Homo sapiens: one gene and its partners. The protein of the gene in region 7 purifies or fractionates together with the protein of the main gene of each other region. This does not show direct contact. Each region holds a gene or a part of one and is shown on either strand. Other genes may lie near its edges.

Region 1 (3,500 bases), on a different chromosome or scaffold from region 7:
AGAGGTTGCAGTGAGCCAAGATCACGCCACTGCACTGCAGCCCAGGTGACAGAGCAAGAGTCCGTCTCAAGAAAAAAAAAAAGAAAAGGGAAGGCTGGGTGCGGTAGCTCACGCCTATAATCTCAGCACTTTGGGAGGCCAAGGCAGGTGGATCACCTGAGGTTAGGAATTTGAGACCAGCCTGGCCTACGTGGTGAAACTCCATCTCTACTAAAAGTACAAAAATTAGCTGGGCTTGGTGGCGGGCGCCTGTAATCCCAGCTACTTGGGAAGCTGAGACAGGAGAATTGCTTGAACCCGGGGGGTAAAGACTGCAGTGAGCTGAGATCACATCACTGCACTCCAGCCTGGGCAACAGAGCAAGACTCCATCTCAGAAAAAAAGAAAAGGGGCCGGGCATGGTGCCTCACGCCTGTAATCCCAGCACTTTGCGTGGCTGAGGCAGGCGGATCACCTGACGTCAGGAGTTTGAGAACAGCCTGGCTGACATGGCGAAACCCCCTCTCTACTAAAAATACAAAAATTAGCTGGGCGTGGTGGTAGGTGCCTGTAATCCCAGCTACGTGGGAAGCTGGGGCAGGAGAATTGCTTGAACCCGGTAGGTGGAAGCTGCAGTGAGCCGAGACCATGCCATTGCACTCCAGCCTGGGCAACAAGAGTGAAACTCTGTCTCAAAAAAAAACAACAAAAAAACCCAAAAAACGAAAAGGGAACATGCGCAGTGACTCACGCCTGTAATCCCAACACTTTGGAAGGCCGAAGAGGGAGGACTGCTTGAGCCCAGGAATTCAAGACCAGACTGGGCAACATAGTGAGACTTTGTCTCTAAAAAAATAATAATAAATTTAAAGAAATAATTACAAAATAAGAACAACAACAAAAAAGAAAATTCAAGAACTCTGTTTTTTTTTTTTTTTAGATGGAGTTTCACTCTTGTCACCCAGCTGGAGTGCAATGGTGCAATCTCGGCTCACTGCTGGAGTGCAATGGTTCAATCTCAGCTCACTACAACCTCTACCTCCCAGATTCAAGCGATTCTCCTGCCTCAGCCTCCTGAGTAGCTGGGATTACATGCGCCCACCACCACGCCTGGCTAACATCTGTATTTTTAGTAGAGACAGTGTTTCACCATGTTGGCCAGGCTGGTCTCAAACTGCTGACCTCGGCTGATCCACCCGCCTCAGCCTCCCAAAGTGCTGGGATTACAGGCATGAGCCACTGCGCCTGGCCAAGAACTTTCAGTTTTAACAGAAAATAAGTCAGTAAAAACATAGCCCAGGGTTCCCACTTTTCTCATGGAAAACGCATGACCAATACCAAATTAGGGCAAGACTCTTTTCTTCCCTGCATAAAAGGACAGAGAATTGATATTAAGACTGAAGAGCTGAAATCGCCTCACTTTCTCCTTTGTATCTGATGGTTTCTAAAACAAGCAAGAGGTTTTTTTTTTCTCTTCTAGAGAAGAGATCATGAATACTGCCAGAGCCCAGAGAAAAATTCTTGCAAGAGGAATTTTTTGTGGCGTATTTTGGAAATAGAATGTGAGCTAGGTGAAAATAAAATTATCAATTGAGAGCTCCTTCTTGTGTAACCACCAGTTTTATTGTTTTCTTATTTTTTAATGTCAGTTTTATTATTTTCTAGCCATATCAGATTTCAAAAATAGACAACATTTTCTCTTGTAAAAAGAATTGTGTTTAAAAAAATCACGGGCAAGAGAACAAATGTGAAGATAAAGCAAAGTAATGTATTTTGGCCAAATTCCAGGTCCTTGGCTAGAATTAATTCTAATAGCTTCAGGTCTCTAAATTTTCACTTGTTTCTATACTTTGTTATTTACTCCATCGATATAATTATCTAACCTGTCTTCTACATTTCCTGAATTTCATTTTAATTCTTGTTCAGTTTACAAAATTATTTCTTGTAAAGGTTAATAATTTTCTCAGCCCTGCATAGATCCTTCTTCTTGACTGTACAAGCAGCTTTGGATGCTAAGTGTAGTACCAACCCTGTAATATTTCACTGGACTACATTTGGAACATATTCAGGGTACCTGGTTACCTCAAGTTTGTCTTACTTTACAGTTACATAAAGTAACTTAGTCTCAAGCAGCACTTTCTCTTTTTCTCTAAGTCTATACACAAACCTCTTTGGCTAGATGACAACTGCCTTTCCATATGTAAATTTCATGGAAGTAACAGCAACAATTTCACTGAGTCCCGCCGGGCGCGGTGGCTCATGCTTGTAATCCCAGCACTTTGGGAGGCCGAGGCGGGCGGATCACGAGGTCAGGATATTGAGAACACGGTGAAACCCTGTCTCTACTAAAAATACAAAAAATTAGCCGGGCGCAGTGGCGGGAGCCTGTAGTCCTAGCTACTCAGGCTGAGGCAGGAGAATGACGTGAACCCGGCAGGCGGAGTTTGCAGTGAGCCCAGATCGCGCCACTACACTCCAGCCTGGGCGACAGAGTGAGACTCCATCTCAAAAAAAAAAAAAAAAAAAAAGAAAGTGTTTTTCAAGAGGAAGAAAGGACAGGGTTATAAATGTATCTTTTAAATTGCTCTTGATATTTAGAACAAACTATGCATAACAGGTAAGCAACATCTATGGGAAGATTGATTTAATTTTCCTCTTACCTGTAAAACTTTACCATGGACCACAGTTCCAAGGACTCCCGAACACAGTCTTGGAGTTAAGCCTGTGAACAACCCGCGCCTCCCATCGATACTGGCAATGTGCTGAGCTAAGAACACAAGTCAGAGATGTTGTCAAGTTCTGGTCAAGAGAAATGGATATACTACAATTTCAAAGAAACAAGCTTTCTATATATTTTCTTTCAATAACAACTCCTGCCTATCACAGTCCTCAACGTCATGCAAACCCAAATAAATCAAAGGCACTTACCATAACTAAAGAGACCAGGAAGCTGACACACTTGCCGCCCAAAAATATTTCGTCCTATTGTTGGAGGAAGAGGCTCATATCCCACCTTTAAAAACAATGGAATATATCAATATTAAAGCAATATTTCCAGAAATGTCTTGCTTGCAAGGTCTTGAATAAAGAACACAATTTGGGTTATTTTTAAACACAAGTAAAAATGCAGCATAGGTTTTCCAAGGCAATGATGAAGCATCATTCTTGTAGGTTTTTCTTCTGTTGGTAATACTGAGTTCAATAAACTCCAAGTTTCATTTTGGTTCAAATTCTATGACGTAAACCATGTAGCTGAAATAGGCTAATATCAAACTGAAAGAAGGGAACTTTTGCGTTAGGAAAGCTACAGTTTACTAAGGGGGCTCAAAAATACCTTCTAAATAAAATCTAAGGCACATTTTGTATTTGAACAAAACTAGAAGACATCCATTACGCCAGCATCAGCTGCATATTTGGCAACCCAGACAAAACACTCAAAAGGCAAATGCAGATATAGCTGGATAATTCACTTAGGAAAGAATTACAAGCTAACTTCATGTTAGAAGAACAGGCTGTCGGTC
Region 2 (3,500 bases), on a different chromosome or scaffold from region 7:
GATGCTTTAGTAAAACTCATGGTCCCTGGATATAATTTTCATTTTCAAGTTTGATTCTTGTTTTTTTCTTCATCTTGAGCTCTAAAATGGTTAGTGCCTGTAAAAGAACCAACTACCTGGTCGCATTTCTTAAATGAAGTTTTAAAGTATGTATAAAAAAAAATTGAAGAAACGAAAAAGGCAGAATTTAAGAAATGTTGGTACTTAATATTTTGTAAGAACTCATGTTAAACATTTAAAATGATACACTGTGTCCTCATTATTAATTATCTCATGGTTTTATAGTAGAATGTTAATGGGGAGCTAAAAATTTTTAATTTTATGACTGAACTCAGTGAAATTAAACTATTTTTCATTTCATATCACTTGGTATAATTTGCTTGGCAGTCTCATTTCTTCAGCTGAGATTCAAATGAAAGTTTCAGTCTATGGAAAGTTTTACCATGAAAACTAAAACTGTAGATTCATCTCATTCTTTGAATCTTGATACAAAGGGAGAAACTATTTACATACAGAACAATGTGCAAAATAGAATTTAAAAGACAAAGATAAATAGGAAAGCACTTGGTAACTGGAGAGACAGGCGATGTTTGAAAGTTAGAAGCAATTTTGATTTATTATCAGATGACTGAGCCCTAATTATTTTAATAGTCCTTATAATCTCTCTTTTTCACCTTCACTTCAGTCAATTCCATATAAACCTTAACCGCTTTTAAGCTTCTTCATGTCCCTATCAAAGAAAAAGAACAACCATTTAGGAAAAGTTAACTTTTCTCTAGTATTGTTTAGTAATTCTTTTTAAATTCCTAAATTATCTTCTGAAATAGTTTTTGAAATAGGCATATTTTTAGGACAATATGTCTACAAGTCATCATTCTTAATAATTAAGGTAAGATAGATTAGTTCAGAAAAAATAGGACATTTTTTGGACTAAACGAGTTACTTTAAAGTACTATGTCATTATGGCCAGGGGCTGATGTTTATATTCAGATAAAGTCATAAATTGCTCAGAAGAAAATACAACACTGTATATCTACTTGAATACCAACAATTCATACATAGGTCAAAACCGTATTTTCTTTTTCATCACATTTAAGGAGTACAAGGAGTACAAATAGTAATCCATTTCGGTGTATACATTAATGCAAAGAAGACATAACCCCCAAACTCAAGGCATTTAAAACATTTTCTTGCTTTATGCCAAAGAAACTTTTTCAAAGCACTACCTTGAATTGCTTTTCCAGTCGTGTCTTTCCTCCTACTCCTGGTATAAGGATGCTGTTAACATAGCTGTGCAGCTGATTTGAAGATACTTCAGTCTCCTTTCCAAGAATGGCTTCCAACAAGGCATCATGGATGAAAATGTACTGCTCCTAAGAGGTACAATACATGGTAGTCACTGAGGGAGTGTTAAGGGTTAGCCACTCATTCATGAAGTGTACCTTAGTTTAATTCTGCTGCTAACAGGGACCTCCCAGTGATTTCCTTCAAGCACTTACAGCTAGGTGATTTGCTCCAATACTCACTTTATCAGTCTTAACTTATTTTACGGTAGAGACTGTGTTAAGTTTAGCTCTGTATTCTATACTGTGCCTGGATCACGGTATTCTATACTGTGCTTATTGCTTCAACTCAATAAGCAAACAAAAAATCGTGTTCAATGAAGGGTTTTAGAACCATCCTCTCCTATGTATTTCTCAGGCCAGACAACATGTTTAACTCCCCCTACCATCTAACACAGCTCTTGAAACAACTGTATCTCTTTCGTAAGTACTTGTGTAGTTATTTAGGAATCCAAATGTTAAGATCCATACAGAAATGGAAAACTGTGATCCGTAGAATAGGATCATTGTCAGAATATCTTCTAATACAAACCTGTAAATTACTGCAAGCCCTAAAAGAATGAATCTGTCTCTTCATTATCATTTAACAAATTTCAGTTACAGCATTTGCCAGAATGTCGTGAGGACGCTGGCAGCTACTCCTTACCTCAGTCTGGACGAGGTAGTTACGCTGTGTCCTGATATGCTTCAGGAATCCCAGGACGTTAACTGTGCTTTTGTCTTTTATCTGTTGCAGCATGCTGTCTATTACAATATAGGTGCCTGTTCTGCCCACACCAGCACTGTAAGAAATGAAGACACTCAACTGGCACTTTTGTTTTATCATACTGTTAACTTTGGATTCGAAAAATTCCAATCTAAACCCCATTTATTTTATTATTTTTCTGAGATGAGATGGAGTTTCACTCTGTTGCCCAGGCTGGAGTGCAGTGGCGCAATCTCGGTTCACTGCAACCTCCGCCTCCCAGTTCAAGCAATTCTCGAGCCTCAGCCTACCGAGTAGCTGGGATTACAGATGTGTACCACTACACCCGACTAATTTTTTATCTTTAGTAGAGGTTTCACCGTGTTGGCCAGACTGGTATCGAACTCCTGACCTCAGGTGATCTGCCCACTTTGGCCTCCCAAACTGCTGGAATTACATGTGTGAGCCACCACTCCCAGCCTAAACCCCACTTAGATAACCTTAGATGACGTACGTTATTCACTTAGCATTGCAACATAAATCACAGAACAAGCGACATGTATTTGAGTACCAAAGTTTAAAACAAACAAAAAAGAGGCAAGAATGCATTTTCAAATGAAACAGAATAAAAGCATTTTTAAACAACCAACTAAAGTCATTTACTGTGGCTGACAAAAAACAAGCTTTATACAAGGATTTCCCAGTGCTTTTGAAAAGGTATTTTATATGGAACATTTAAACTAAAAATTTAAAAATGAAATATTTTCATATATACTATAAATATTGTTATTTAGAAGAACCTTTCAGAAAAGCCATTTACAAAAACACAATCTCTATTCTAGTGTGGAAAGTTCTTGTGTTTAACGTCATATTTTTATTTATTAGGATCAGGCTACAATTTTCCTATAAACAATGGGGATTTTGTAATTTTTTCTTTTTTTTTTTGAGTCATGATCTTGCTCTATCATCACCCAGGCTGGAGTGCAGTTATGTGAACACAGCCCACTGCAGCCTTGACCTACTGGGTTCAAGGGATCCTTCTGTCTCAGCCTCCCATGTAGCTGGGACCACAGGCATGTGCCACCATGCTGGCTAATTTTTTTATTTTTAATTTTTGTAGAAATGGGGTGTCACTTTGTTGCCCAGGCTGGTCTCAAACTCCTGGGCTCAAGTGATCCACCCACCTCAGCCTCCCAAAGTGCTGGGATTACAGGAGTTGGCCTCCATGCCTGGCTGATATTATTAATAAGAAGATTTTATAAAAACTAGGGATTGATCTAGTTTTTTAAAAATCACAGAAGCAGCAGATGATTTCTTAATGTTACAGGAATAGAGCCTCTTTAAGACTATCATAGGTCTTATCCATCCCAGTTTCCAGTGGAAGATTCAGCTTCTAAGTGAAAGCAGTAGCAATCATTGTGGTCCAAGGTCACTGAGGCCTAAGTCCCCTGCCCCATCTATTTCACATGTTG
Region 3 (3,500 bases), on a different chromosome or scaffold from region 7:
TGTTGAAGCGCTGGTGCTCACACCCCCTACCTTCAGGGCTCTGCAAGCACAGTTCCAAGGTCTGCAGCGCGGGTACAGTGCATGCCCTGCTGAGTGTGCGTCAGAGCAGTTGTCTCCCTGTGACACTTATTCTAAGACCCTTTTTGCTACTCATAAGTGGTAGAGTACCACACTCACTCATGAACCAGTGATAATCCAGGGTACTAACGGGGGCCCCGGAGTTTATTTGGCACCGAAGATTAAGCTACTTGGCAGCTGAATTTTTATCTAGATTGGGGTTAGGTTTGTATTAAAATTTTGCATTCCAGCAAGCCCTAAACCGTGCTTGTTCATTGTGGGATAATGCGTTCAACTGATGAGTTGCCAGGCCAGGATTGATGGGGGATTATGTGTATTCTGCTAGTTTGTCAGCACCTGATGTCACTGTGCTGGGGGGTGGGGGAGGCATGTTTGGAGTTAGGATGAGCAGACACTTGTAGATTTTAATCACACTCTACTTTGGGGCTCCCTGCTCTCCTATGGTAGCAGGGGGTTTCTGTGTCGTTCTTATGTCCTCATGTAAAGCTGCACATCTGTGAATGTCAGGTAGCTCTTGTGCTTTTCCCCTTAGATTGAGTTTCTAATCTGGGAATGACAGAGGGTGGCTGTATATGGAGACAGCAGCATGGGCTTAGGGGCTCTTTTGGTGCCAGTTACCCTACGGAAAAAAGGTTTCTTCAAATCACTTTCTACAAAGACTAAAAAATGGTTGGAATCTAGTGGTGCAGATTGTAATATGACTTCAGGTAATCAATACGGTTTGACAGGTGGAACATTTCTTAGATGCTGATGAGCAGGGCGCAAGTCTCAAGATTTTTAAATCATCTGAAAAGCACAGTAAATCCTTTAAAGAGCCCTACCTTGGCCATGTTGTTTCAAGTAAAATTGAATTTCAGAGGCAAAGCTTCACATCGGAGGCATGACGAACTAAAGAAATCCTTCCCAGAGACCTCCACTCTCTTCCTGTTGCCACCCTCCTCTGCCAGCAGCAGGGCAGGAAAGATGACTTCTTGGGGCTGTGTGCCTTTACCTTAAGAAGCAAGTGCACCCTGAATGCTTCTAATCCCGCAGCTGGGTTGTCTGGGTATTTGGATCTTTTTGGTGCTTGAGGTACTACCCAAGTTGGCAGGAAGCCAGGAGCCTGGGGGTGGAGGTGTCTTAGCCCCACCTGTGGCATGAGACAAGAGGTCTTCTCCAGCAAGGGATGGGTCTCTGACCCTTGGCTAAGAAAACTCAGGATTGTTAAATACGTACTGCATGGATAAGGTTGCTGTGACCCTGAAAAAAGGAAGAAGGCTTTTGGGTGGTGCGTGGTTCTCCTCTTGGAAGTCTTCCCAGATTTCGCCTCAGTACTCTCTTGCCCTAGCTTAAATCTTTCCTTGCTCTGTGTCCCCTTAGGCAAGTGAGGTCTCCTCTCAGGTAGGCATGATATTAAGTGCATGTCTAGAGGACAGTTCCTTCTACCTGCCCAGGTGCACTGGCTGAACTCACCTATGCCCACATCTGTGCATTGGCAGGTGATATAGATATACACCTGAGCTGTCCCCCTGAGCTGCAGACCTAACACTAGGTGTGGGCTCCGAGCTGTTCCACATCAAAACAGAGCCGAGGACACATCTCCCTCACTGAAGCTGTGTCTCCTACCTATTATGGTCAACACGTCTCATCTACTCATTTGTTAAAGCTAGAAATCTCTGGAGAGTTTTGGAGCTCTTTCTCTGTCTTCACTTGAAATCTCTGGAGAGTTTTGGAGCTCTTTGTCTGTCTTCACTTTGCCATCTAATTGGGTCAGCCCTCTCTGAGGGCTCACACCCACTCTTCCGGCACAGCGGAGCCTTATCTGCCCTTGGCCCAGAGAATGCTTCCAGTTCCTTCACTCCAGCCACACCGGCAGCACTTCCCAGTTTAAAACGCAGATTTCATCATCCCACTGTCTTCTGCCTCCCCAACCCCACCAAACCTTGGTTTGTTCTCTTAACGCAGTAAGTGCTTCTGATACCTACTGTGTGCCTTGGACCAAGCTGGAGTCTGAGAAGGTTGGGCCCAGGCATCCTCCCTACCTGTGCAGAGTTTAAGGTCTTGGGCTGGGGGTTGTATGTGGGGTACCTATCAAATAAGACCAGGGAGCGTGAAGTGCTATGGAGGGGAGCTCCTACCCCAGTATAGGGGGCTCCCTGGAGAAGCACCCTCTAAGCTGATACCTGGGAGAGTTGGGGGTGCAGGGGAGGGGTTGGAGTTGGGGCTGGATTGTTCGATGCCTTTCTTCTGTCTCACCCAGACTTCCTTATCTGCTAAACTCCTACTCATTTTTGTTTTAATTAATACCAAGATAGAATTTATCTCTCATAAAGCATGCCCATTCTAAGTGTACAGTTTAATGATTTTCAGTAAATTAATAGAGTTCATAGCCATTACCACAATCCAGTTTTGGAACATATCCATCACCCCAGAAAGATCCCTCTTTTGTACAAACTCCCTGTCCCCGTCCTCAAGCCGCCAGTCCCCCACAGATTTGCTTTCTGTCTCTAGATTTGCCTTTTCTTTCTATGTTTCTTAGTGTGTTTTCATAGGTTCGGCCCAAGAGCTGTTTCATTTGGGCCTTCCTAGAGTCTTCTAGTTAGAATCAATTTATCCCCCAGCACCGACGAAGTGAGCTGGGTGCTTGGCCATCCCGCTGCTAGATGGCGAGCTCTCTTACCTGCCTCTCCTGCCTGCACCTGGCTCAGCACTGGCACCTACAGAATACCCAAGGTGTGTTGGCTGGACCAGCTGAAGTTGTGTTCCTCACATTTCTTTTGTATAACTCCTGAGTATCTAGCAGAGTGTGGGGATTTAAAATACAGCGCATGTATTGATGTGTCAGGTGATGTGAGCCCTGCTACATACATACCTTAACTTGTTTCATCAAGAACTTGTGAGGCAAATGGCAAATCAAAAACAAAAACAAACAAAACAAAACAAAACAAATCTATTTTCTAAGCCAGGCACAGTGGCTCTTGTCTGTAGTTCCAGCTACTAGGGGGTGCTGAGGTGGGAGGATTGCTTGAAATCAGGGATTTGAGCCTGGGCAATATTGTGAGACCCTGCTTCTTAACAAACTTTTTTTTTTTGAGATAGGGTCTTGCTCTGTTGCCCAGGCTGGAGTGCAGTGATGTGATCCCAGCTCACTGCAGCCTTGAACTCCTGGGCCCAAGCAATCCCCCTGCCATAGTCTCCTGAGTAGCTAGGACTACAGGTACACACCACCATGCCTGCTGATTTTTAAATTTTTTGTGGAGACGAGGTCTTGCTATGTTGCCCAGACTGGTCTTGAGCTCCCGGGCTCAAATAATCCTCCAGCCTTGGCCTCTCAAAGTGCTGGAATTATAAGTGTGAACTACTGTGCCTCAGCCCAAGCCATTTTTCTAAATGAAAAAACTGAGGAGGCCCAGAGCAAATAAGTAGCCCAAGGGCATCAGCAG
Region 4 (3,500 bases), on a different chromosome or scaffold from region 7:
TAGATTGCCTGAGCTCAGGAGTTTGAGACCAGCCTGGGCAACACGGTGAAACCCCATTTCTAGTAAAATACAAAAAAATTAGCCAAGCGTGGTGGCGTGCACCTGTAATCCCAGCTACTTGGGAGGCTGAGACAGAATAGCTTGAATCCGGGAAGCGGAGGTTGCAGTGAGCCGAGATTGTGCCATTTTACTCCAGCCTGGGCGACAGAGCAAGACTCTGTCTCAAAAAAAAAACAAAACAAAACACACAAAAAGACAACAAAAAACACTCCTCATGCCCCAAGTCATACCCGATGCCAATTAAATCAGAATGTCTCAAGTTGGAAGTTAGGCAGTTTTTAAAGCTCCTCAGGTGATTGCAGTGTGCAGAAAGTTTGAGAACCACTGCTTAATTGAATGTAGGAGGATGAACTGCTTCTATTTGGTGGGACCTTGGGCAAGTCAGTTTTAAGCCTTGGTTCCCATATCTGTAAACTGGGTGTTGGATTAAATGTCATGTAAGGTTCCGTGGTCCTTTTCAGCATATAACTTCAAATTCTGTAATGTTAAAATCAATTTGGACATGAAAATGTTTGAAGCACTATAGAAGTATCCATCTTAGATGCTAATGTTACAGACTTTTTAAAAAAGTGCTAACATTGTATGGACTTAAAATTCAGATTTGCCTTCCCTCAATTATTTTGAGCCTCAGTTTAGAGACTGAGGGCAAATGGAAGCATATAACTTACCTAAGACAACTCCTTGTTTCCTGATACACAACATCTGTGGGTAATTTAGGAATACAGTAACATATATCTGAAAAGTCGTGTCTGTTCACTAATATTTTACTTAAACCAATGTGGAAATACTTGCCATTAATATTACACTTTGTAGTTTTATGCTGCATTGTTAGCACTGCTTATTTCAGGATAGCTACACCTATCATTGGTTTTGTGTGCACTTATTTACTAATAAATTTTCTACTAATGATGCAAAATTGATCATAAATGATTTTATTTGGTATAAAACACTTTTATTTACTTTAAGGGGAAATAATGAAAGATGGGTGGGTAGGTGATAGTTAATTAAATCAACTGAAATGCAGAGCCTAACAGCTTAAAAAGCAAAAAATAAAAATAACCAAAAAACCAAATAGTTTAAATTTAAGCATGTATACAAATAGGTAGAACTTGTATAAAATGAAAGGTTCTATGGGCAGAAGAGCAAATGGGGATATATGTAATTATTTATATATTATAATAGTCCACAGAAACATGTATTTTAACAGCATATTACTGGGTTTTTTTTTTTTTTTGAGACGGAGTCTCGCTCTGTCGCCCAGGCTGGAGTGCAGTGGCACGATCTCGGCTCACTGCAAGCTCTGCCTCCCGGGTTCACGCCATTCTCTTGCCTCAGCCTCCTGAGTAGCTGGGAATACAGGCGCCTGCTACCACGCCCGGCTAATTTTTTGTATTTTTAGTAGAGACGGGGTTTCACCGTGTTAGCCAGGATGGTCTCGATCTCCTGACCTCGTGATCCACCTGCCTCGGCCTCCCAAAGTGCTGGGATTACAGGCGTGAGCCACTGCGCCCGGCCTTACTTAGCATTTTGGTTCGTGTATTTTTGCTGAAAGGAACTAAAACAAGGGGAAAGTACCCATATGGTACTGTTCTGAACTAGAGGATTTCAGGGCCGCTAGGAGGGTTCCTCCCTTCCCTCATTTAAAAAATGTCTTCAGGCCTAACAAATGTTTAAATCAGTTGTTAAAAATAATTTTTTTTTCCCTTCACAGTGTGACCTTAGCAATATATTACCACATAAAGAACAGGTGAGCTCCTTTAAAACCTGTCTTGTTATTCCAGCTAATTACTTTGCATGATATCAAGTTCAGTATTAGGTCATAACTATAGACATCATAAGCTATAGATTGCTATTACAGTATTGAACTGAATCATTTGTGGTTTTTCTGGTCCCCAAGATGGTTTCAATTATTAAATTACTGAGGATCCCAAAGAGTATTTGTTTATGTTGGTTATATTGATATTTATTGCATTAGAAATTGAAGTTGAGAATTTAAAAAAAAAAACCCTATATTTAGTTTCAGTTTCTCAACGTTGGCACTGTTGATATTTTGAGCTACATAAGTCTTTGTTGTGGGGACTGTCCTGTGTATTGTAGGATATTTAACAGCTGTCCCAGGTTGTGACAACAAAAATATAACCCCTGACTGAGAATCATATTGTTAACATAAATAATATTTTTTCATGAAAAATAACTCTCTTCTACAACAACGAAGTTGAGTAAAATGTGTCATGTATTTATATATATACAACTCTCTAGTGTCCAGCTTAACAGAAAACAGCTGGATTCTCATCTCTGTCTTTGCAATTAGTTTTTTTTTTTAATTTCAACTTTTATTTTAGATACAGTGAGTACATGTGTAGGTGTATTACGTGGCTAATAGTGCACCCTGGTAGTGAGCTGTAATTTGTTTTGAAGAAGTGATAAGAAGATGACCTAGCCTCACGCAAATATATAGTTGGTAAAAGGTATATTTTTAAAGCTTTCAGATGGTTGTGGGTATTCTTTATTTTTTAGTTTATTTTTATTTGGTTTTTTTTGAGACGGAGTCTTGTCTGTTGCCCAGGCTGGAGTGCAGTGGCACGATCTCGGCTCACTGCAACCTCCACTTCCCAAGTTCAAGCGATTCTCCTGCCTCGGGCTCCCGAGTAGGTGGGGTTACAGGCGCATGCCACCACGCCTGGCTAATTTTTGTATTTTTAGTAGAGATGGAGTTTTGCCATGTTGACCAGGCTGGTCTTGAACTCCCGACCTCAGGTGATCCACCCGCCTCAGCCTCCCAAAGTGCTGGGATTACAGGCATGAGCCACCATACCCGGCCAGTATTCTTTAATACTACCCAACACTCCACAAGTGCTAGTTTCTTAAAATGGTTACAGTGGAATTTTGTGTTATCAATGAATTTTTTATTAGTACTCACCCATCTGTCTTGTACAATATATGTATCATTTCCCCTTACTTGGTTTTCTAATATTATGCATTGGTTATATGGAAAATATTGGTTCACATCTCTTCTTTCTTTTTTTTTTCTTTTTTTTGAGACAGAGTCTCATTCCATCACCCAGGCTGGAGTGCAGTGGTGCAGTCTCAGCTCACTGCAACCTCCGCCTCCCGGGTTCAAGCGATTCTCCTGTCTCAACCTCCCAAGTAGCTGAGATTACAAATACATACCACCATACCAGCTAATTTTTTGTATTTTTAGTAGAGACAGTGTTTCACCATGTTGCCCAGGCTGGTCTTGAATTCCTGAGCTCAAGCAATCCGCACACCTCAGCCTCCCAAAGTGCTAGGATTACAGGCGTGAGCCACCATACCCAGCCTGGTTCACATTTCTTGACAGTGGCAAAGCTCACTTTTGTTAGTATCACCACCAATTGTATTAAAAAATCTTTAAGTATTGAGAAGCTGTTAAACTCACATAATAAGGTACAAGTTTCTCC
Region 5 (3,500 bases), on a different chromosome or scaffold from region 7:
GTATACTGCAACAATTTAAAACAGCATAATTACAAGTGAGTAACATTTTTTATTACTTGCTATCCTGACAGAAAACAAGACATAACACAAGTTTCTAGCAACTGAGGTGACTAGAAACAATGACAGTAAACTAGAATTAAAAAGGAATTCTTAACCACTTTAATTTGCTTTTGTGTGATTTAGAGCTGTATATAATTTTTTAGAAACAGATCTTTTGATCCTAAATAATTTTATTTGCAAATTTATGACACAACTACTGCCCAAGTGCTAACAATCTGAGGTATAAGCCCAATACTAAACTATGACTTCATCATCCAGAATCAATATCTCTACTGGCAGATTTTATCATCTTTCTTTTTCTATTCCCATGGCATAGCAATATTTTTATCATCTTGACAGTCAATAAACTCTTTATAAGAGCTTGTTAATGGTCAGGGGCAATGACTCACACCTGTAATACCAACACTTTGGAAGGCCAAGGCAGGTGTATCACCCCAGGTCAGGAGTTCAAGACTAGCCTGGCCAACACAGTGAAACCCTGCCTCTACTAAAAATACAACATTAGCCGGGCGTAGTGGTGCACACCTGTAGTCCCAGCTACTTGGTGGAAGAAGAATCACTTGAACCCGGGAGGTGGAGGTTGCAGTGAGCCAACATCGCACCACTGCACTCAAGCCTGGGCAACAAGAGTGAAACTCTGTCTCGGAAAAAAAAAAAAAAGAGCTTGTTCATGTATTTTCATTTTCCCCCTCATTCCAAACCTTTAGAAAAGATGTGAGAATAGTGCAATGACTATCTATCCCCTTTAGTTAAATTTACTAATGGTTAACATTTAGTTACTGAGCTTTAGTCATGCCAAATTAAAATTACTTAATTTTAAACTTCCTTTTATTTGGTGACAATCATTACTTTATGTTGTAACTATGGAGGTTAATATAAGACAAAATCTTCTTTTAGAAAAGTTTTGGTATTATATATATATATTACTTAAAAAGCACATATGGCAGAATATTAAAAATGTGTATGTCTTGGGTCTTTATATTAAATAACTATACAGTTTGGATCTTTTTACCTCTGGATGCATTAAACGTAAAAGATAAATCCACAAAGTTTCTTAAGCTTGTTGTGCCTTGGCTTCCTTGTTCCCCATGACCACTACCTCTATTTTGTCTACTACATCTAAAATAGTTCTGGTTGTTCTACCCTGGCTGATGTACTCTTTCTTGTATTCCAGGGAGTTAGCTATGCTACCACTCAGCCATTTCCCCAGCTTCAAATTCGTCTAAGGTGTGCCACAGGAACATGGCTGAGCTTCCTATACTGCTGCCAGTGTATTTTCTGGGAAAGATGTAAAAACTGGAAGTTTCCTGGATTTTTCATTGATAAAGTTTGCATATTCCAGAATTGCACCACTATGGTAACCAATTAAATTCTGCCACTGTCCAAATGTTTATATAATAAATGAGTTTACTTACAAATGTTAAGTGCTACAAATACTAGCAACACTATTTCTATGATGTTCTCTAGAGATCATGGTCTCTGCTTCTTATTAAATCAAAAGAATAAACATACAGGCAACCTGAGTTCTGAAAATCCAGTTTAAGAAAAGTCCTTACAGAACTGCTGTGGTTGGTGTTCCCTCCTATTGAGAATGCCAACCTCCTTCTTAAGGACATTCTACAAGTTTCATCCATTCACAACAAATATCCACTGACATAGTTGTAGCCCTATGGATATGTTAGTGATCATGAGAGGCAAAAATTTCTGCCCTGGAGGAGTATACATGGAGACAGACAAAAATCAAGTATGCAAGATGGTAATAAATGTTATAGAGAAAAGTAAAGGTTGGGAGTTTATTTTGAGGGTAGGAATATAAAGTTATATTTTAAAAGACTATGCTCAGGGAAGGCCTCACGGGTAACATTTGAGCAACCATGTGAGGGAGGTGAGGGAATAAGCTCTATGGTTATGTGGAGGAAGACTACCCCAAGCACAGGAAAGAGCAAATGCAAAGGCCCCAAAGGGAAACATGTCTAAAGTGTATGAGAAGCTGTAAGGAGGCTGGATTCATTGAAACATTGTTACCTAGTGGGTGAGTATAGCAGTGGGGGCCAGAGAAGGGACAAAGAGAGAGGATTCTCATTTGGACCTTTCAGGGAAATGTAATAAAGACCTGGGCTTTTACTCTGAGTTTAATGCATAATTTAAGCTGAGGAAAACATGATCTGACTTACATTTAAATGGAATTATGATGGTTACTGTGTGGAGAACAATCTGAAGGGGGTGAAGAAGAGAAGCAGGGAGATCAGTTTTGAGGTTATTGAAATAATCCAGCTGAGAGATGACAACTGTTTAGACCAAGATAGTGTCATTAGATTCTAGTGGTGGTAGCTGAGTTCTGGGTAAGTTTTTAAGGTAAAGCCAGTAGGGTTTTCTGAGAGTTTGGATGTACACATAATATAACAAAAAATACAGTCAAGGACGACTCCATGGTTTCAGGCATAACCAACTAAAAAGGTACTATTTACTGAGATGGGAAAGACTGGAAAGACCCAGGTCAGGGAAAGGTTATCAGGAGTTCAGTTTGGACATGTTATATTTGAGATGCTTATAAGACATACAAAAAGAGATATTGAAGAGGCAGTTAGATATAAGAGCTCGAAGTTCAGAAAAGAAATGAGAGATAGGGATATTGTTTGGATGTTTGTCACCTCCAAACCTTATGCTGAAATGTAATCCCCAGTGTTGGAGGTGAGGCCTGTGGGAGGTATTTGGGTCATGGAGGTGGATCCCTCATGAATAGCTTGGTGCTATCCTCACAATTATGAGTTCTCGTGAGATCTGGTTGTTTAAAAGTGTGTGGCATCTCCCGCTCACTCTTTGCTCTTGCCATGTAAAACACCTACTCCTCTTTGCCTTTCACTATGATTGTAAGCTTCCTGAGGTGTTCACCAGAAGCAGATGCTGGAGCTATGCTTGTATAGCCTGCAGAACCATGAGCCAATTAAACCTCTTTTCTTCATAAATTATCCAGCCTCAGGTATTTCTTTACAATAATGCAAACGGCCTAATACAGACAGGGTTACAAAGTTAGTATTTATCAGCATACAGATTGTATTTAAAACCAAGCAACTACAAGATCTCCAAAGCAGTGTTGTTAGGAAAGAGAAGTGCAAGTATTGAACCCTGAGGTCCTCCAACATTAAGAGGTAGGGGAGATAAAGAGGAATTAGGAAAGGAGACTTAGGAGTAACCAATGAGACAGAGGAAATCAGGCAAGTATTGTTTCTTGGAAGCCAAATGAATAAAGGTTTTACATTAGAAAGCAATGATAAACTGAGTCAAAGGCTGCTGAAAAGTCAAGGGAGTTGAGGATATATTCAAGAGAATTATAAATGATGGACCGTGGACCTGAAGCTATATGCAGAGGGGGTTGAAGATATAAGGGATAATAAAAAGATGTTAGGATAAATGGACTACAGGTTGTAACGAAGTTGAAG
Region 6 (3,500 bases), on a different chromosome or scaffold from region 7:
GGGGGCGGTGGAGGGGGTGGTGCCACGTGTGGCTCTGTGGACGGCTCCGACGACCCTGACAGTGTGCTTCTCTCCCTCCAGGTCGTGCACACACACAAGCCGCACTTCATGGCCTTGCACTGTCAGGAGTTTGGAGGGAAGAACTACGAGGCCTCCATGTCCCACGTGGACAAGTTCGTCAAGTAAGTCTAGGGGCAGGTGCTGGTGCATGTCCACTTCCCAGGGGTGTGGGGTGCCGGCGGGGGTCTTTTCATGGTACTATGATCACCAGCCTCACCATTCGGGACTCACCTGGGGGTCATCTTGGCTGAGTCTCAGTTTTCCAAAGAGAGGAGTGGCCCAGACGTGTGGCCACGAGCCTCCTTGGGGCGGCGACAGAAGGCCACGGAGTGACAGCCTGCTGCCTCCACACGGCGAGGGTCTGTGCTCTCGGGCCAGGGGACGTGAGCCCCAGATACCAGTGGAGCCGTCTCCGTGTGTGTGTGTCTGAGGCCTGGGCCTGTGGTGGCCGGGGTTCACATCCCACTGCGCAGTCTGTCTCAAGGAGGTCGGCAGGGAGCGTCTATCCTCCTTGGGGGCGAAATCTCCATCGTTTAGGAGGAAGGTGCCCCACGTGTATTCCCACTGTACATGCCCTGAGGCTTCTGACAGGGCCGGCCCAACTGGGTCCTGCCTGGGAAGAGGGGGCGCCCGGACCTGGGGCATCCAGGAGTGGACAGGAGCAGGCAGGGGCAGGCAGGCTTGTGTTCAGACATGGGGCCTCCTATAGGCTGTTGCTAATAGTGGCTGCTGTATTTTCCCGAGGCCGCAGCCGTGAAGCCCGCCCTCTGTGTCCCCTACAGTGTGGCCTTGGCACATTCCCATGTTGGGGGCTCGTCTCCACCTCCAGACCCTGGGCAAGCCCTGGCTTCTTCACAGCATGAGGGCTTCTGGGACCAGCCCCCAACATCGCAGAGCTTCACAAAGCTGCCACACTCTGTGGGCCGACGCCGCTGCCACGCTCTGTGGGCCGACGCCGCTGCCACACACTGTGGGCCGACGCTGCTGCCACGCTCTGTGGGTTGACGCTGCTGCCATGCTCTGTGGGTCGATGCAGCCACCCGGAGTCGGGACCTGTGGGCAGAGCCGTCGAGCCCTCCCGGCCTGGTGCCAGTGTGAGTGTGAGCGAGGCTTCAGGCGATCCCAGCCGCTGCATCCTTGCTGTGACATAAGCCCTCCGTGTTGAACTCCCAGCGCAGGGTCCTCGAGCAGAGCAAAGTGGTTTCAGCTGCTAAAAAAAACTGCCACAACTTCCCAAAATAATCTGTAATTTAAGGCATTTTTTTTTTCTTTTTTTTTTTTTGTTTTGAGACGGAGTCTCGCTCTGTTGCCCAGGCTGGAGTGCAGTGGCGTGATCTGAGCTCACTGCAAGCACCGCCTCCTGGATTCATGCCATTCTTCTGCCTCAGCCTCCCGAGTAGCTGGGACTACAGGTGCCCACCACCACACCCAGCTAATTTTTTTGTGTTTTTTTAGTAGAGATGGGGTGTCACCATGTTAGCCAGGATGGCCTCAATCTCCTGACCTTGTGATCTGCCTGCCTTGGCTTCCCAAAGTGCTGGGATTACAGGCATGAACCACCATGCCTGGCCAGTTTAAGGCAGTTTTAATCAAAATCTTAGCGGCATTTTTCCTAACACTCAACAAACTAATACTAAAATTGCCATATAAGAGCAAAGGGTCAAGAATAGTTAAAAGAATCCTGAAGGAAAACAAAGTGGGTTCTCACCCAGCTCGACCCCAAGGCTCATTCCGAAGAAGCAGTGGGGCAGGTGGCATGACGCAGGCCCGGAGAGGAGAGCGGATCGAGGCAGGTGCGCAGCCCAGAGAGTGGAGAGCGGAGTCGAGGCCCCACCCAGACCCTCGCGGCTGCCTTGGAGGAGGGTGGGTGGGGACATGGGCTGGGGCACGGCATCATTGGTGTCCTGTTGGGAAAAATGAAATTGGATCCCTGCTTTGTGTCATAAGCAGCCACTTCTCACTCACCCTACATAAGATGAATTTCAGTTGTATTAATTATATAAATGTAAAAGGCAACATTAAAAATTTCAGTCTAAAATATAGGAGAAAATATAGTTTTGGGATGAGAGATTTCTTTTAAAATGTGCAGGAAGTGCAGCCTACAGAATGGAAGGCTGAAAAATGTGGCCATGTTTGAACTAAGCATTTGCTTATGAAAAGGCACTCAAAATGAAGTCACTCAAAATGAAGTCACTCAAAACAAAATCAAAATTCAGCCACTTCGGGAAAAGATATCTGCAGCACACCTTACTGACAAAAACGAGTGTTTAAATATATGAAGAACTCAGTAAGTCGGTAAGAGAAGGAAAGCAGCCCCTGTTGGGAAGCACCTTCCAGAGGAGAGAAAGTGGGGGTGCACCCTGAGCACGGAGGACGCCGCCCTCACAGCAGGCGGGGACACCGCAGGCCGGACGGGAACGATGCCGCCGTGTTTGGTGTGAGAGCTTCACAGTGGAGTGTGGCCCCCACGGCCTTGTGCCCCCGCGATGCCGTGTGTGTTTCCTTCCTCCGCGCTTTATGCCTAATGTACAGCGTTATGATTTTTGCTTTAAACAATTTTCTTTTTAAAAGATTAAGACGTGAGAGAAACGCCCTTGGTGTGGACCAGTTCACTGGCTTTCAGTGCCCTCCGCCCTTTTGTGTGGATTCTGCTTTTTATCTGGCACCCTTCTCTCTCTGCCTGAAGAACGTTCTTTAACATTTATTTTAGCACAAGTCAGCTGCTCATGAATTTTCTCAGCTTTTGTTTATCTGAAAAAGGTCTTTGTCCTCATTTTTGAAAGCTGTTTTTGTTGTAAATAGAATTCTAGCTTGTCAATTTTTTTTCCTCTCACTACTTTAATGATATCGCCCCATTGTCTTCTGTATTGCATTGTTGCTGGCGAGAATCTCGCCATTGTTCTCTCTTAATTTTCTTGTATATAATGTGCCCTTTCCTCCACTGCTAGGTTTTGTCTTTATAGCTGGTTTGCAGCAACCTGATTATGTTGTACTTTGCTTTGATGTTCTTTATGTTTATCTTGCTTGGGGCCGTTTGAGCATTTGCAGTCTGTGGGTTTATCGTTTTAATCAAATTTGGGGAAAATTTGTCCTTGTCCATTATTTCTTTAAATACTATTTTTCTTTTCCTTCCCTTCTCTTTTGTTCTTAGGCTCCAGTTACCTGATGTTAGATTGCCTGGTTCTGCCCCACAGGGCCCTAAAGCTCTTCTGATTGTTTTCAGCTCATTTTCCCTGTGTTTCGGTTTGGATCGCCTCTGTTGCTGTATTTTTAAGTGGCTGGGCTCTTTTCTGTTGCAGATTTTGATCTTCTCTTAGGTCCATGCAGTCAGTTCGTTTTATTTCTGACATTGTGTTTGTCCACTCCTTCCAGAAGCCTCACGTGTGCTTTCCCTGTCCTCGCTTTTCCTTCCGTCTGTGCGTTCCTTTCGCTGTCTGGTC
Region 7 (3,500 bases):
GATTATATGTGGACAGCAAGCTCGCCACCAGGAAGCCACTCAGCACTCAACGTACCAGCTCCCTATGCTTCCTGGCACTAGAATCGCATGCTTTCTTCTGCTGTTTGAGCTTCTTTTATTGGTTTTCTATGGGCTGTGGCTCCAGATGCTCCCTTGCTCCTCAGCCCCTCCTCAGGTCTTTCCCATTTCCCCGGACAAACGACATAACTGAGGTACTCCAAGGAAACGAGGCTTCCAGGGCCTACGCGACAAACCCATTTATAACCTACATTTGTTTAGAATGCTTCATGTTCCTTAAAAGTCGAGTTTTCTCAGCTATATGAGGGCTAGATCTATAATTTTTAAAGCCCATGATGTAGAGAAGCCCTTACCCAATCTTACTTTTGTACTCTTCCTGACATAAATATGCAGAGTACAGAGCAGGCACACTGTGTCCGCAGGGTGGGAGCAAGGCACCCTTGCAGGCAGTAACGGTTAGGGTCAGTTACCTGGAGCAGGCTGAGTGAGACCCGTTTTACATGTACATGCAAATGAAGGCGGTCACAGAATGGCTGTGCTTCATCAGACTTAGAGAGTTCTAGCAACAGGTTAAGATGGGGAAGTTCAGCAAATGTCTCACTTTTAGAAAAGCCTATCTTTAGGTGCACAGAACTGTATGAAGTATTAATTCCTAGAATATCAGGCCTACACATATTCAAATATAAACAATAATTTTAAAACCCCACTCTCAAGTAGTGGCTCTTCACTAGGGCTTTAGATTAGAACTACCAGGAGAGATCTTAAAAGACAGATCCTCTGGGGCTGCAACCCTGGAGATTCACCTTCACTAGGAGCCAGGAGAAGCCCAGGAGTGGGAGTTCCAGAATTCCGCTTTAATTGGCTCCAATTGAACCCCCAAGGTATGTTAAAGCCAAACAGAAATGAACGTTAAAATCCTACCATTTGTATTTATTACACTTTCTACTCTTTAAAAAAGTGAGATGAAAAATCATGTGATTTCAAGAACTGTATGAAACTGCAGACACCATTCTAAAAACAACTCAACTATCTAGCGTCCTCCCTGTCGTCCCTATCGGCCCTCAGAACACATTATAGTTTTCATAGGTGGCTTCTCTGGATGTCATGCACTGGGTCCCTGGGTCCCCTCTGTCCTGGCAGGGCTGCCACCAACCTCAGCAGCAATATTCCCCAGGAGTTATCACTTCACAGTCCTAAAGAGCTTACAGTGCAAGAGGAACTGTTTCGGGGAATGTCAAAAGACTGTTAGGCTTCCAGTTAATTAATAACACACTTCATTCAAGACAGAGAGGGGACATGTCCGGCCTAGCACTTAGACAACAGAGCCTTGGCTCCTGAATTTTGGCTACTGGTTCCCTGAACAAATTAGCCATGTTATTAGCATGATTACGAGTGGTCATAAAAATGCCATCCCACTTTCACTAAGAACTCTCTATGTGCCAGGCACACTGCCAAGCGCTTCAGATGCATCATCCTCGGGTTAAGCGTGATACAGTAGCTTTCTTTTCACTGTGTGTGTGTGTGTGTGTGTGTGTGTGTCTACACAAAATATAGCAGGATGCAAACAGACAGCCGTCACTAAACTGGGTCATTCTGGTGTCACAGTAGCGCGATACTGAAAATCCACATTTGCAATCAAGTCTCCTGAAGAAAAAACAACAGTGTCTTCAAAAAGCCACTGAGGTTTCAAGGATGAGCCTACAGAATCTGGGTCATCTGTAAGAGGCTGTTCTGATGAAATGCTGGAGGCAAGCCAGCAAAGGGAAGTTTCTGTTGTCCAGTAACCTTCACGGTCCCTACAGAAATCCTAGCAGTGGAAATGGGAAAAAAACAAAAGCAAAACGAGTTAGGGTTCTCCTTCAACAGAAGGAAAGGGCGACTAACACACAGCGCTGGACAAATGGAGCACGCGTTTGAGAGTCAGGGTTTACAGAAAACTATTAGGAGGTGAAACCATTATTCACACACGGAAAAACACTTGATGGGAAGCCAAGCCGACCAGAATACGCTAAGGCGCTATTAAGCAAGAGACACACGTACCAGTGTACAAGGCAGCTCTCACCGCGGAGCCGGCACTCGTGAATGAATTTAATACTTTCTTTGAAATGTCTTGTCCTGGGAAAAGAAAAAAAGAGAAATGACATCTCTCTACTTTACTCAATATATGATGAAAAGAAAATTCTACCTGAGGCTTCTTTCTTAAAATGTTAATTGATTTTTTTGTATAATTGACACATAATTCTACATATTTATGGGCTACAGTGTGACACTTCAATGCATGTATACATTGTATAATAATCAAATCAGGATAATTACCTGATAAATGCTTAATCACTTTAAACATTTATCACTTTGTAGTGATAACATTCAAAAGCTTCTCTTGTAGCTATCTTGAAACATATACTACATTATTATTTGCTATAATCAAATAATCCACCAGGTAATGGAAACCAGAACATGGCTGGGTGCGGTGGCTCACGCCTGTAATCCCAGCAATTTGGGAGGCTGAGGCAGGCGGATCACTTGAGGTCAGGAGCTCGAGACCAGCCTGGCCAACATGGTGAAACCCTGTCTCTACTAAAAATACAAAAATTAGCTGGGTGTGGTGGCACACACCTGTAATCCCAGCTACCAGGGAGGCTGAGGTAGGAGAATTTCTTGAACCCAGGAGGCAGAGATTACAGTGAGCCAAGATCACACGACTGCACTCCAGCCTGGGCAACAGAGGAAAAAAAAAAAAAAAAGAAAGAAACCAGAATTTATTCTTCCTGTGGTTTACTGAAAGCTCTCCTAGTCCCATACCATCAAAACCTGGTCATACTGTCTGTGGCTGGAGCTGTCTCAGCCTCAGAATCCATTATTTACAATGCTGAGGTCTAGGGAAGGCTGTGGGTTGTCTGGAAGTTTTGGAATTTCTCTGTAAGAAATCCCTGAAACACATAGTTACCACAGACTGGGGTTGAGGGAAGTTCTGGACGGCGCCCCCCATGTTCAATCGGAGCCCCTCAATGCCCCAGCAGCACAGCAGGAACCCTCACACCAGCTGTGGATGGTGCAGGCCACCGTGACGCAGGTGAGGAAGGTGACCACGTCGTGTGGGCTTTCCAAGTCCTAAAAGCTGATTTACTCCTGGCAATCTGGAAAATCTAAAAGCATTCTCTCAAACTGGTCTCCCGGGACTTTGGCAGTCCTGTCTGCAGCTCAGTGGAGAGCTGTGGGGAAATGGAAATTCTGGCTCCAATCCCTCTTTGCCATTTACTGGACCGTGTGGCCCAGGACAAGCCATTTATCTTCTCATTTATAAAGTGGGGCTGGTATCTCACAGGGCAGATGAGGTAATACATGCCAATATGCTCTGCAAACTCTGAAGTCCTAAATGGACTGAACGCGGTGGCACACACCTATCATCCTAGCACTTGAAGAGGCTGAGGTGGGCAGACCACTTGAGCTCAGGAATTTGAGACCAGCCGGGGCAAAATGTC

Evidence for each region.
Region 1: the proteins of DUSP22 (region 7) and MTCH2 purify together in Homo sapiens (affinity purification with mass spectrometry, with the first as the bait; one large-scale study listed by BioGRID). This does not show direct contact.
Region 2: the proteins of DUSP22 (region 7) and PTPRG purify together in Homo sapiens (affinity purification with mass spectrometry; 2 studies listed by BioGRID and IntAct, with this or other methods). This does not show direct contact.
Region 3: the proteins of DUSP22 (region 7) and HPCAL1 purify together in Homo sapiens (affinity purification with mass spectrometry; 2 studies listed by BioGRID and IntAct, with this or other methods). This does not show direct contact.
Region 4: the proteins of DUSP22 (region 7) and CCNYL1 purify together in Homo sapiens (affinity purification with mass spectrometry; 2 studies listed by BioGRID and IntAct, with this or other methods). This does not show direct contact.
Region 5: the proteins of DUSP22 (region 7) and RAP1A purify together in Homo sapiens (affinity purification with mass spectrometry; 2 studies listed by BioGRID and IntAct, with this or other methods). This does not show direct contact.
Region 6: the proteins of DUSP22 (region 7) and INPP5A purify together in Homo sapiens (affinity purification with mass spectrometry; 2 studies listed by BioGRID and IntAct, with this or other methods). This does not show direct contact.

Annotation. Positions count from the first base shown.
Region 1 is NC_000011.10:47,636,060-47,639,559, forward strand, and holds part of MTCH2 (mitochondrial carrier homolog 2), read right to left. Parts: intron 2,993-3,500; coding exon 2,908-2,992; intron 2,747-2,907; coding exon 2,640-2,746; intron 1-2,639. UniProt on the Homo sapiens protein: Protein insertase that mediates insertion of transmembrane proteins into the mitochondrial outer membrane. Catalyzes insertion of proteins with alpha-helical transmembrane regions, such as signal-anchored, tail-anchored and multi-pass membrane proteins.
Region 2 is NC_000003.12:62,271,571-62,275,070, reverse strand, and holds part of PTPRG (receptor-type tyrosine-protein phosphatase gamma isoform 1 precursor), read right to left. Parts: intron 2,126-3,500; coding exon 1,990-2,125; intron 1,374-1,989; coding exon 1,227-1,373; intron 1-1,226.
Region 3 is NC_000002.12:10,305,904-10,309,403, forward strand, and holds part of HPCAL1 (hippocalcin-like protein 1), read left to right. Parts: intron 1-3,500. UniProt on the Homo sapiens protein: May be involved in the calcium-dependent regulation of rhodopsin phosphorylation.
Region 4 is NC_000002.12:207,735,640-207,739,139, forward strand, and holds part of CCNYL1 (cyclin-Y-like protein 1), read left to right. Parts: intron 1-1,771; coding exon 1,772-1,807; intron 1,808-3,500. UniProt on the Homo sapiens protein: Key regulator of Wnt signaling implicated in various biological processes including male fertility, embryonic neurogenesis and cortex development. Activates the cyclin-dependent kinase CDK16, and promotes sperm maturation.
Region 5 is NC_000001.11:111,699,789-111,703,288, reverse strand, and holds part of RAP1A (ras-related protein Rap-1A precursor), read right to left. Parts: intron 1-3,500. UniProt on the Homo sapiens protein: Counteracts the mitogenic function of Ras, at least partly because it can interact with Ras GAPs and RAF in a competitive manner. Together with ITGB1BP1, regulates KRIT1 localization to microtubules and membranes.
Region 6 is NC_000010.11:132,645,787-132,649,286, forward strand, and holds part of INPP5A (inositol polyphosphate-5-phosphatase A), read left to right. Parts: intron 1-81; coding exon 82-182; intron 183-3,500. UniProt on the Homo sapiens protein: Phosphatase that specifically hydrolyzes the 5-phosphate of inositol 1,4,5-trisphosphate to inositol 1,4-bisphosphate, and inositol 1,3,4,5-tetrasphosphate to inositol 1,3,4-trisphosphate. Plays a crucial role in the survival of cerebellar Purkinje cells.
Region 7 is NC_000006.12:344,487-347,986, reverse strand, and holds part of DUSP22 (dual specificity protein phosphatase 22), read right to left. Parts: intron 2,134-3,500; coding exon 2,059-2,133; intron 1-2,058. UniProt on the Homo sapiens protein: Dual specificity phosphatase; can dephosphorylate both phosphotyrosine and phosphoserine or phosphothreonine residues. Activates the JNK signaling pathway.